3 linked regions of the Homo sapiens genome follow. The protein of the gene in region 1 interacts with the protein of each later gene in a pairwise test. Each region holds a gene or a part of one and is shown in the gene's direction. Other genes may lie near its edges.

The links.
Region 2: the proteins of XRN1 (region 1) and DCP1B interact in a two-hybrid assay, tested with the Homo sapiens proteins (one large-scale study listed by BioGRID).
Region 3: the proteins of XRN1 (region 1) and WAPL interact in a two-hybrid assay, tested with the Homo sapiens proteins (one large-scale study listed by BioGRID and IntAct).

Annotation. Positions count from the first base shown.
Region 1 is NC_000003.12:142,325,910-142,329,566, reverse strand, and holds part of XRN1 (5'-3' exoribonuclease 1), read left to right. Parts: coding exon 1-133; intron 134-3,657. UniProt on the Homo sapiens protein: Major 5'-3' exoribonuclease involved in mRNA decay. Required for the 5'-3'-processing of the G4 tetraplex-containing DNA and RNA substrates. The kinetic of hydrolysis is faster for G4 RNA tetraplex than for G4 DNA tetraplex and monomeric RNA tetraplex.
Region 2 is NC_000012.12:1,997,823-2,001,479, reverse strand, and holds part of DCP1B (mRNA-decapping enzyme 1B), read left to right. Parts: intron 1-3,504; coding exon 3,505-3,545; intron 3,546-3,657. UniProt on the Homo sapiens protein: May play a role in the degradation of mRNAs, both in normal mRNA turnover and in nonsense-mediated mRNA decay. May remove the 7-methyl guanine cap structure from mRNA molecules, yielding a 5'-phosphorylated mRNA fragment and 7m-GDP.
Region 3 is NC_000010.11:86,438,166-86,441,822, reverse strand, and holds part of WAPL (wings apart-like protein homolog), read left to right. Parts: intron 1-3,657. UniProt on the Homo sapiens protein: Regulator of sister chromatid cohesion in mitosis which negatively regulates cohesin association with chromatin. Involved in both sister chromatid cohesion during interphase and sister-chromatid resolution during early stages of mitosis.

The DNA of each region.
Region 1 (3,657 bases):
GTCTATGGACAATATGTGTTGGCCTGCCCCCAGCCAGATCCCTCCTGTATCCACACCAGTAACTGAACTTTCTCGAATTTGTTCCCTTGTTGGAATGCCACAACCTGATTTCTCCTTTCTTAGGATGCCACAGGTATAGTATACTACTGTTCTATTTATATAAATTATTTAACATTAAGCTTAAATAAATTGGTTGAAAATGTTTAGCTAGAAAAAATAAAATGGGGCCTATTTTTCTTAACTTTATGAGCAGCATAGATTTATGCTTCTTACCCTAGCTCTAATATTTATACATAACCAAAGCCCTAAGAGAAGCTGACAGGGAGGAACTGGGCAGCAGGTATCCTGGCAAGATTCCTCAAACTAATAGAGCCAGGGATCTTGGCCTACAGTAGCAATTTTCAAACTTTTTGGTCTCAGAAACTTCACACTTTTTTTGGAGGACCCCAAAGAGATTTTGTTTACTTATATCCATATTTACTGTGTTTGAAATTAAAACAAAAAAAATTGGCCAGTTGTAATGGGTCATGCCTGTAACTCAGCACTTTGGGAGGCCAAGGCGGGAGGACAGCTTGAGGCTGGGAGTTTAAGACCAGCCTGGGCAACATAGCAAGACCTCATCTCTACAAAAGAATATAAAAATAAAATTAGCCATGTGTGTTGTGAGCCTGTAGTCCCAGCTGCTCACAAGGCTGAGGCAGGAGGACGGAAGCCCAGGAGGTCAGGACTTCAGTGAGCCACGATTATGCCATTGCACTCCAGCCTGGGCAACAGAGCAAGACCTTGTCTCTGAAACATATATATATATATATATATATATATATATATATATATATATATATATATATATATATATATATATAATATTACAAGTAAACCTATATGTTTATTAATCCATTGTTTATTAAAAATAACTTTCACCTAATAGACATCTGTAGAACATTTCATCCAACAGCTGTAGAATATACATTCTTTTCCTCAACAAATGGAACATTCTCAAGGATAAACCAAATGTTAAGCCACAAAACAAGTCTCACAAAATTCAAAAGATTAAAATTCAATCAAGTATATTTTCTGACCATAATGAAATAAAACCAGAAATCAATAACAAGAGGAACTTTGGAAACTATACAAATAAATGGAAATTAAACATTATGTTTCTGAATGGCCCTTGGGTCAATGAAGAAATTAAGAGAAAATTTTAAATTTTCCTGAAGCAAATGAAAATGGAAACACAACATACCAAAACCTGTAGGATACGGCAAAAGTAGTACTAGGAGGGAAGATTATAGCAATAAATCCCTGCATCCAAAAAGTACAGACACTTCAAATAAACAACCTAACAGTGTGTCTTGAAGAATTAGTTCCAGCAGTCACACTACTGGGTATCTATCTAAAGGAAAAGAAATTGTATAAAAAAGATACCTGATTTGTATGTATATTGCAGCACTAGTCACAATAGCCAAGATGTAGAATCAACCTAAGGGTCCATCAACAGATGATTGGATAAAGAAAATGTGGTGTATATATACACAATGGAATATTGTTCAGACATTTTAAAAAAGAATGAAACCATGTCTTTTGCAGCAACATGGATGGAACTGAGGCCATTATCTTAAGCAAACAACTCAGAACAGATACCACATGTTCTCATTTATAAGTGGGAGCTAAATAATGTGTACATAGGGATATAGAGTGTGAAATAATAGAGACTTGGAAGGGTGGGGGATGGGCAGGGAGTAGATGGTGAGAAATTACTTAATGGCTGCAATGTATGCAGTGTACATAATTCAGGTGATGAATATAAGAAAAGCCCAGACTTTACCACTCTGCAATAAATCCATGTAACAAAACTGCACTCGCACCCCTTACGTTTATACAAATTTTTAAAATAAATAATAACTAGAAAAGCAAGAGGAAACCAAACCCAAAATTATTAGAAGAAAAGAAATGATAAAGATTGGGGCAGAAATTAATGAATTGATACTAAAAATAGTACAAAAGATGGATGAAAGAAAAAGTTGTTTTTTTTTTTTAAAAGATAAGCAAAATCAACAAACCTTTAGCCGGACTGTAAAAGAGAGAATATCCATATGAATAAAATCAGAGATGAAAAAGGAGTCATTACATCTGATAACACAGAAATTCAAAATATTTTAGAGACTATTATGAGCAACTATATGCAGTAAATTGGAAAACTTAGAAGAAATGGATGAATTCCGAGACACATAAAAACATACCAAGATTGAACCATGAAGAAATCCAAAACTTGAATAGAACAACATTAACAAGATGGAAGCGGTAGTAAAAAGCCTCTTATCAAAGTAGACCAGGACCTGGTGTTTTCGCTACTGAATTCTGCCAAACGCTGAAAGAAGAGCTAATAAGAGTTCTACTCAGACTGTTCCAAAAACTTGAGGAGGAGAAAATACTTCCAAACTTGCCAGTATTACCCTGATACCAAAACCAAAGAAAGACACTACAAAAAATGAGAACTACAGGCCGATATATCTGATGAAGTAGATATAAAAATCTTCAACACAATACTAGTGAATTGAATTCAAAGGCACATTAAAAAGATAATTCATCATGATCAAGTGGGATTCATCCCAGGTATGCAAGGATGTTTAAATATATGCAGTCAATAACTGTGACACATCAACAAAATGAAGAACAAAAACCATATGATCATTTCAATACTAACTGAAAAAGTGTTTGATAAAATTCAGCATCTCTTTGTGATAACAGCTCTCAACAAACTGGGTATAGAAGGAACATACCTCAACATAATAAACAACAACAAACCCACAGCTAGTATCATACTGAATGGGGGAAAAATGAAATACTTTCCTTTAAATTCTGGAAACAAGACAAGGATGCCCACTTTCACCACTGTTAATATAGTACTGGAAATCCTTGCCAGAGCAATTAGACAACAGAAATAAATAAAAGGCATCCAAAAGGGAAAGGAAGGAGTCAAACTACTCTTGTTAGTAGACAATATAATCTTATATTTAGAAAAAAACTATTAGAATTGATAAATTCAGTGAAGTTGTAGGATACAAAATCAACATACAATCAGTCACATTTCTATATACTGACAGCAAACAATCTGAAAAAGAAACCAAGAAATTAATCCCCTGCAGAATAGCTACAAATAAATAAAATACCTAGAAATTAATCAAGTTAACCAAAGCAGTGAAAGATCTCTACAATGAAAACTTATTATAAAACAATGATGCAAGAAATTGAAGAAGACACAAAGAAATGGAAAGATTGTCCATGTTCATGTATTGGAAGAATCAATATTGTTAAAATGTCTATACCACCCCCAAGCAATCTGCAGATACAGTGCAACTCCTCTCAAAATACCGATGACATTCTTGACAGAAATAGAAAAAAAAAAAAAATCCTAAAATTTATCTTGAACCGCACACGATCCTGAATAGCTACGGCAATCCAGAGCAAAGTGAACAAAGCTGGAGGCATTATACTGCAAAGTTACATAACCAAAACAACATGGTACTGGCTTAAAAACAGACAGAGACCAATGGAACAGAATAGAGAATCCAGAAATAAATCCACACAGTTACAGTCAACTTATTTTTTATAAAGATGACAAGAACATATGTTAGGGAAAGAACAGCCCCTTCAGTA
Region 2 (3,657 bases), on another chromosome or scaffold:
CTATTTTATATTCCATTTTGGGTTTTTTAGTATTTTGAATTCTGAATTGCTTATTTCTTTAGCACTTGTTAGATTTTATAATACAGTATAATATTAAATCCTCAAATTGTACTTTTAAAATTTAAGCTAAAATACCCCAGGACTGGTAACTAATACTTTCACATAAAAGTCCTCCTTAAAGGATCTAAGGAACATCTAATCTTGTTTTAGCTATTCTCCACATCCCTAACCCTGGACTTTGCTCAGAAAGAAAAAAAAAATCTGGTTGCCCTTGGATAACTATGGAGGGGCCAGGAAAATGCGTGAATTTGGGCAGCTGTAATAGAACAGAAATGTATATTTTCAAAGTCTCTTTTATCCAGGTGTCATAGAGCGCCTGACGTTTTTTCATCAAAAGATCTGAGTAGTGTAAGCTGATTATCTCTCTTTTTTTTTTTTTTTTGAGACGAAGTCTCGCTCTTGTTCCCCAGGCTGGAGTGCAATGGCGTGACCATGGCTCACTGCAACCTCTGCCTCCTGGGTTCAAGCTATTCTCCTGCCTCAGCCTCCAGAGTATCCAGGATTACAGGCGCCTGCCACCACTCCTGGCTAATTTTTGCATTTTTAGTAGAGACGGGGTTTCACCATGTTGGCCAGGCTGGTCTTGAACTCCTGACCTCAGGTGATCCACCCGCCTCGGCCTCCCAAAGTGCTGGGGTTACAGGCGTGAGCCCCTGTGCCCGGCCTGGTTATCTCTTTTCAATGGAGAAACTGAGACATATAATAATAAACTAATTAGCCCAGCATGATCTGGCAAGAACCCCACTACAGGTCCCAGGTTGTGATTACTGAAACACAACTCCTTCCTATGAACAAACTCATATTCTTTGTGTGTAATGCTAAATAAAAATCTTAGTTTTAAGAATTACTTGTTATAAGTTAGAGATTAATTTTAGGAGAAGCATGCCTTTTACATTTTTGACCTTGGAATTTAAAAACTAAAATGTGGCATTAAAGGTTTTTTTTTTTTAATTAAGAAAAGAGAATTTCTGTTACATCAAGGAAGAAAGGAAACAAGTCAGAAGCTATTTAGTTTTATGTGTGCTGATATATATAGATATCCTTATTCAGATCTCTAAGATGAAACAGTCCAAGGTCAGATACTGGAAGACCAGGAGAGTGTTTTGATCTTGTGGGGAGTGATCCTGACTACATAGAGGTTCTGCAAAGTCCTAGTTCTATCACCTGTATCTTGGCTCAGTTTCCTAACAATGTAATGGATAATACCAAATACTTTCTACAAATTTATTTTTAAATGCTTTGTGGACTTGTGAATACTTGCTGACTGAATCAGTTAAACTTTAGGGACAGCCAAAAATTTGTATACTGTTCAGGTAGCATTTACTGTACTGTAGGGGCCATTTTCCTGATTAATACTTTGGTGGTTTGGGTGTAAGTAATTCTTAGTGCTTCAGGTACACTCAGGATATACATTTGTCAGCAGATAGGAATTAACCATGTTTGTTTTCAAAGAAAGATAAGTAATGTTTCTGTATATATATTTTTTCATTTTGACTTGGATATTTTTCAAAGTACAGGGGCAAACGAGCCACATTTCAGAAATAAGGATATGTTTCACAGTATGTTGTGGTGATTTATACAAACTTCATAGTGAATCTAGTTTAAGGATGAACTCCCTGACTTACCTATGCTTTTATGTTAGGGAAAAAACTGGCTAAAGTTGTTTTAATTGTTATTTATTTATTTATTTATAAGAAACAGGGTCTCCCTCTGTTGCCCAGGCTGGAATGCAGAGGTACAATCATAGCTCACTGTAGCCTCAAACTCCTGGGCTGAAGCAATCCTCCCTCCTCAGCCTCCTGAGTAGCTGAGACTACCGGCATGTGCCACCACACCTGGCTAATTAAAAAAATTTTTGTTTTGTAGAGGCAAGGTCTCACTATGTTGCCCAGGCTGGTCTCAAACTGAACTCCTGGCCACAAGCGATCCTCCTGCCTGCCTCAGCCTCCCAGAGTGCTGGGATTACAGACATGAGCCACTGTGCCTGGTCTAAATTCTTTATTTATAATTTCATATTCCATAATAATAAACATCTTGAGATTAAATATTTTGTTACTAGGTAATGATTTTTTATAGCCATTTACTCTTGATAATAGCTTGATATGATTTGTGCCATAATGGATTTTGTTTTCAGGACTTGTAATATAATTTCATGGGCAGAGAGTATGTTGTTGAACTAAGGCAGTGAGTGGCTCTCAAACTAGCATACATCAGAATCACCTGGACAGTTTAATAAAACCCAGATTGCTGAGCACCATCCCCAGAGTTTCTGATTCAGTAGGTTTGGGCAGGAGCCCAAGAGCTTGCATTTCTAATAAGTTCCCAGGTGACGCTGATGCCGCTGATCTGGGGATAACACTTTGAGACCCACTGAACTAAAGTGAATGAGAAATTTGCTGAAATTGCCTGAGCATGTGAAAGGATCATGCCTTGTGTGCCTTTTAAAAACTGCTGTTTTGACATTACGCTTTTTTTAAAAGGGCGTATTTTTCACCAGAATTACAGAGTACTTAAATTTTGAATGATTATGGTGATGAATATTAATAATAAAATATCAGGGGTTTAAATAGAATGCTGAAATTAAACCATGTAAATTGCAAAAGTACATTTTAAATTCTGAATTACAGTAGGTCTGGTTCGTGGTTAGTCAAACACCTGGATACTTACATGTGTGTTTTTTAGTATGCATTATATGGATGAATATTATAATGGCCTAGCTTCCTGCCTTTGGAGAAATGGAAAAGAAATGTGAAGTGACCTAGTTAAACCATCATTTTAACTTTACCACCTCTCCCAGATTTTCTCAGGCAGATTTCTTGAGTCCTAACTTGGTAATACTTGTGTAACTTTACTTCAGTGATCTCGGGTCAGACCTTGACTGTAAATATACTACACTAAGTAGGTGATTGATTCATCTGAGAACTCTGTGGCATCATTGCCCTCTCTGTCTAGCAGTCAAAGTAAAGTTATTGACAGATCATCTGCTCTCCTAAGTCACTGGATATGGCAGGAGAAAATGAACCCAGAAAACAAAATGAAGGATAGTGAAATGCAGACACCAGTGATGTCTGCAGCTTTCTCTATACCCAGTGTGGTGGAAGGAGAAAAAGGCAGCACTCTTCTTTCTAATTAAATCCGCATAGCACACTTATTTTCTCATTGTTTCAGCTAAGGGTATGCTGCTATCCCTGTATTTGGTAAAGAGAGATAATGATGATTTGTTTTATAAATGACAAAAGAAAGACTGCTTCCTGCTGCCTAATCTGCAGAGGCACAATGATGACATAGAACTTGCTTTCTCCTTTTCCTGAGAATAACTCCTCATGTTGGGTATATTTGGCCCATTGAAGTTATATATAATTCCTATTCTATGAGAATTTGTTTTATACCTTTGTGAATTGAAGAGAACATACATGTCTTGTGTGTTTTGTTTTTATTGTTTAGGAGAAAACTGATGTGGAAGGAACCTTATTTGTTTATACAAGGTAAGAGTGTTTCACTTTTATAAAGAAACTAATCTTCAAAATAATATTTTAGCTCCGTTGTGTCACTCTTCTTCAAGTGCATGCAGTTTTATTTCAAAAAGAAGTAAAAGAA
Region 3 (3,657 bases), on another chromosome or scaffold:
ACCATGTTGTCCTGGCCGGTCTCGAACTCCTGGGCTCAAGTGATCCTCCTGCCTCGACCTCTCAAAGTGCTGGCATTATAGGTGTGAGCCACAGTGCCCACCCCATTTCTCTCTTTAAACTGCTGTCCTCCACATGTTGTCCTCTGCTAGCCCTTATGGTCCCGTGCTGACTACAGCTAGGTGTCTCATCAAATTAAGTAGTGCCTAGCAGTAATAGGGCCTCTTCCTCTATAGTTTTTTTTTTTTTTTCATAGGTGCATTGGCTGGAAATACATATCTTTTTAAGACAACTGTTTGTTTATTTCCCCTGTGGGACCCCATGCCACTCTCACCCCTCACCAGGTAGACTTCTCATCTTGGCCAGCATTGGGTCACAATGCTTTTGTCTGAACCAGTCACTGGCTGGGAACATGGGATTACTGTGAGTGGATTAGATCATCAGGATTCACTTAGGAGAAATACAAATGTCTAGACAATCAGGCTGAGTCAGCCTGAAAGTGAAAGGTTGTGACTATGGGGATAGTCTGCTGCCTTGGGAAAAACAAATATGAAGGGTAAAACTGTTGAAGAAGGGTCCAGCAGAATCATTGTGAGTGTTCTCTTTCAGATGGGGGGTTGGGCATAGGTGGATTATTTTTAAGTGTAAAGTCCATTTGTAAAGCCAGATTTTGAAATGGAAGGCAGATTGTTTTCTAGGAGCAAGGGCATTGAGGGAACAAGAAAGAGTGGAGACCTATAGGAGGGGGGCATTAGTTTCAGCAGGAAGCAGGGGCCATCTCTTTTTGAAGCTGGAGGACTGGAAGAACAGAGTTAATGATAAATGAATGGCTTTATTTGAGCAGGAACTCATGCTGGCTCTGTGTACCTGGGCCCATCTACCCACCCCACGTTTCCTTACTTTAGCCATCTAATTCTTTGTATTGCCTTTTTTTTTTTTTTTCACTTTGTGTATCTAAGTCCTGTGTGTTTTTCTGAATCCATCTTGTCCATCTCTTCCATACTTAACATTTTAACTAACCTAAATACAACAGCCCACTCTGTGTGGCCCCTCTGGGTACCGCCGATTTCAGGATCAAGACCAAAGTTCTCATCGTGGCTCTGGAGGCCCCGCAAGATCTTTATATCCCTTTTTCTTATTTCCAATGACAAGATTTTAAGAGCAAATCAGAAACCCATCACACACAGGAAAGGAGGAAGAGGCAGGCCTCAAAAGCAGTGAAAAAAGGCCGGGCGCAGTGGCTCACGCCTGTAATCCCAGCACTTTGGGAGGCCAAGGTGGGCAGATCACAAGGTCAGGAGATCGAGACCATCCTGGCTAACACGGTGAAACGGTGAAACCCCGTCTCTACTAAAAATACAAAAAAAAAATTAGCCGGGCGTGGTGGTGGGCACCTGTAGTCCCAGCTACTCGGGAGGCTGAGGCAGCAGAATGGCGTGAACTCGGGAGGCGGAGCTTGCAGTGAGTGGAGATCGCACCACTGCATTCCAGCCTGGGCAACAGAGCGAGACTCCATCTCAAAAAAAAAAAAGCAATGAAAATAATATTTAAATTTAAAGATTTTTAGATACTCTGTTTTTTACACACTATAGGTTTAGTCATATTTCAGTCACGTTCTTTCTTACATAATCGTTCTTGAAATTGTGTTATTACCACATATGATTTATCTTGGGCCATCTTTCCCATGCTAATTCCTATTTGTGTTTGCCTGTATCTATCTTGTCTCTAAAAAGAGAATGTTCTTAAATTGTGGGAAATGTTGTGAATTCATAGAGCCCCAGATTTATTTGTTGCCTTGGAGATTATTATGATTAACACCAAAAAGCTAGCTGATACCACAAAATGTAAAGGAAGTTTGGTTTACCTAATGTGTAAGTGAAAAGAGATAGACAAGAAAGCATGTGGTTGTTGCAGTAAATGCTGCTTTGTGGTCTGATCCCATTTTCACTTGCCCTCCATGTCTTCTCACTTTGCAGCTGGTGCATTGCAGTGGTCAGTCTCCTCACTGCTCTTCCTGCTTTGTTGCCCCTCCATTCCTGGGACATTGCACATTGCCACTGGAGCTAACTTACTTCAGAGCACTTACTGATCACGTAGCTCCTTGCCCAGTCTTCCTTGGCTCACAGCCAGGAAGGGGACTCATGACTGTTTAGTGTTGCAAGACCCTGGACTTAAGACTGCTTCTCCAATTTCCAAACCTACTGGACACTTTTAAAATTTTTCAAATAGGCCATGCTGTATCATGCCTTTTCTTTTTGTACCTGCTATATTCTGTTAAAAAATGCTGTCACTGTCCCTCCCATTGCCTCAGAAACGCTGTATGTCATGTTCTGTAGTGTGTTGATAGAGAAGGGTTTGATTTGGATTAATGAGGGGCTTTCATCCAAAATATAGGAGCTAATCATATATTCTCTATTACAGAGGCGTACTTTTCTACTGAGCAGTTCTCCAGAGACACCTTAGCCACTATTTTGCCCACCACTGTGATAGCTTTTGGTGGGAGGATCAGTTTGAATGTGTGTAACTGATATCTTCAGCACATGAGTACTTTAGCAGTGTTTTGATTAGATCTTTTCTGAAGCTGTATTCATCTCATTTTTTTGCTGCTTTCTAATTTTGCGAGTACCCTGGCATGGGAATAGGAAAAAGGGGGTGGGTAGTGGCAAATTTCTGAAGAGAAATATGTCATCTCTCCTTTTTTGCCCCCGCTAACAAAAGTCGAATTGGGAGCTTTTGTGTGTTTTCTTTTTGTTTTTTGGTTGGTTTTGTTTAACCCTTTACCTTGTGTCCCCAAACTTGGGACAGTATACTTTCTTTTGCCCCTTACTACAGGTGAACCTTCCTAAAAGATTTTTTCTTTTTATTCTCCGTAAAACATTTAAAGCATTCTTTAATGAAATAGTTTTTTAAGCAGGTTGTGTAATGTTTTCCATGTAACAGATTGGTTTATATATAGTTTGGCTGCTTCTTGCTAATAATGAAGGGTTTTCTCTCCTGATATTGTCTGAGAATCTATCATAGATGAGGTTAGATTGCCTTTGGAAAGATGCTTCTAGTTAATTCCTGTCCTATATAATTAGTTGAATTCATCTGTGAAGGATGTGAATTTTTCTTTGATCTTTTTATTTCATGAGCAGCTTTGTGAGTACATTCTCAGGTCTAAAGTCCTCACCCTCTTCTCCTATTCCCCCAGGGCCCCCAGTGAAACACACACATACATTAAACAGTGCAGTTTGTTATTTCAGGCCTTTTTCTTTGCATTTATGAAAGTAGGTCGGCATGCTGCCTCACACCTGTAATTCCAGCACTTTGGGAGGCCAAGGTGCGTGGATTACTTGAGCCCAGGAGCTCGAGACCAGCCTGGCCAACATGATGAAACCACGTCTCTGCTAAAAATACAAAAATTAGCCAGGCATGGTGGCACGTGCCTTTAATCCCGGCTACCCGGGAGGCTGAGGCATGGGAATCACTTGAACCCAGGAGGTAGAGGTTGCAGTGAGCTGAGATTACACCACTGCACTCCAGCCTGGGTAACAGAGTGACTGTTTCATTTAAAAAAAAAAAAAAAAAAGTAAATGTGTACACAAATATTTCTTTGTAGCTTTTGCCAACTTTACCTTTCTCCTTTCTTTCTGAGGGTGAGGTAGGAAATCACATGC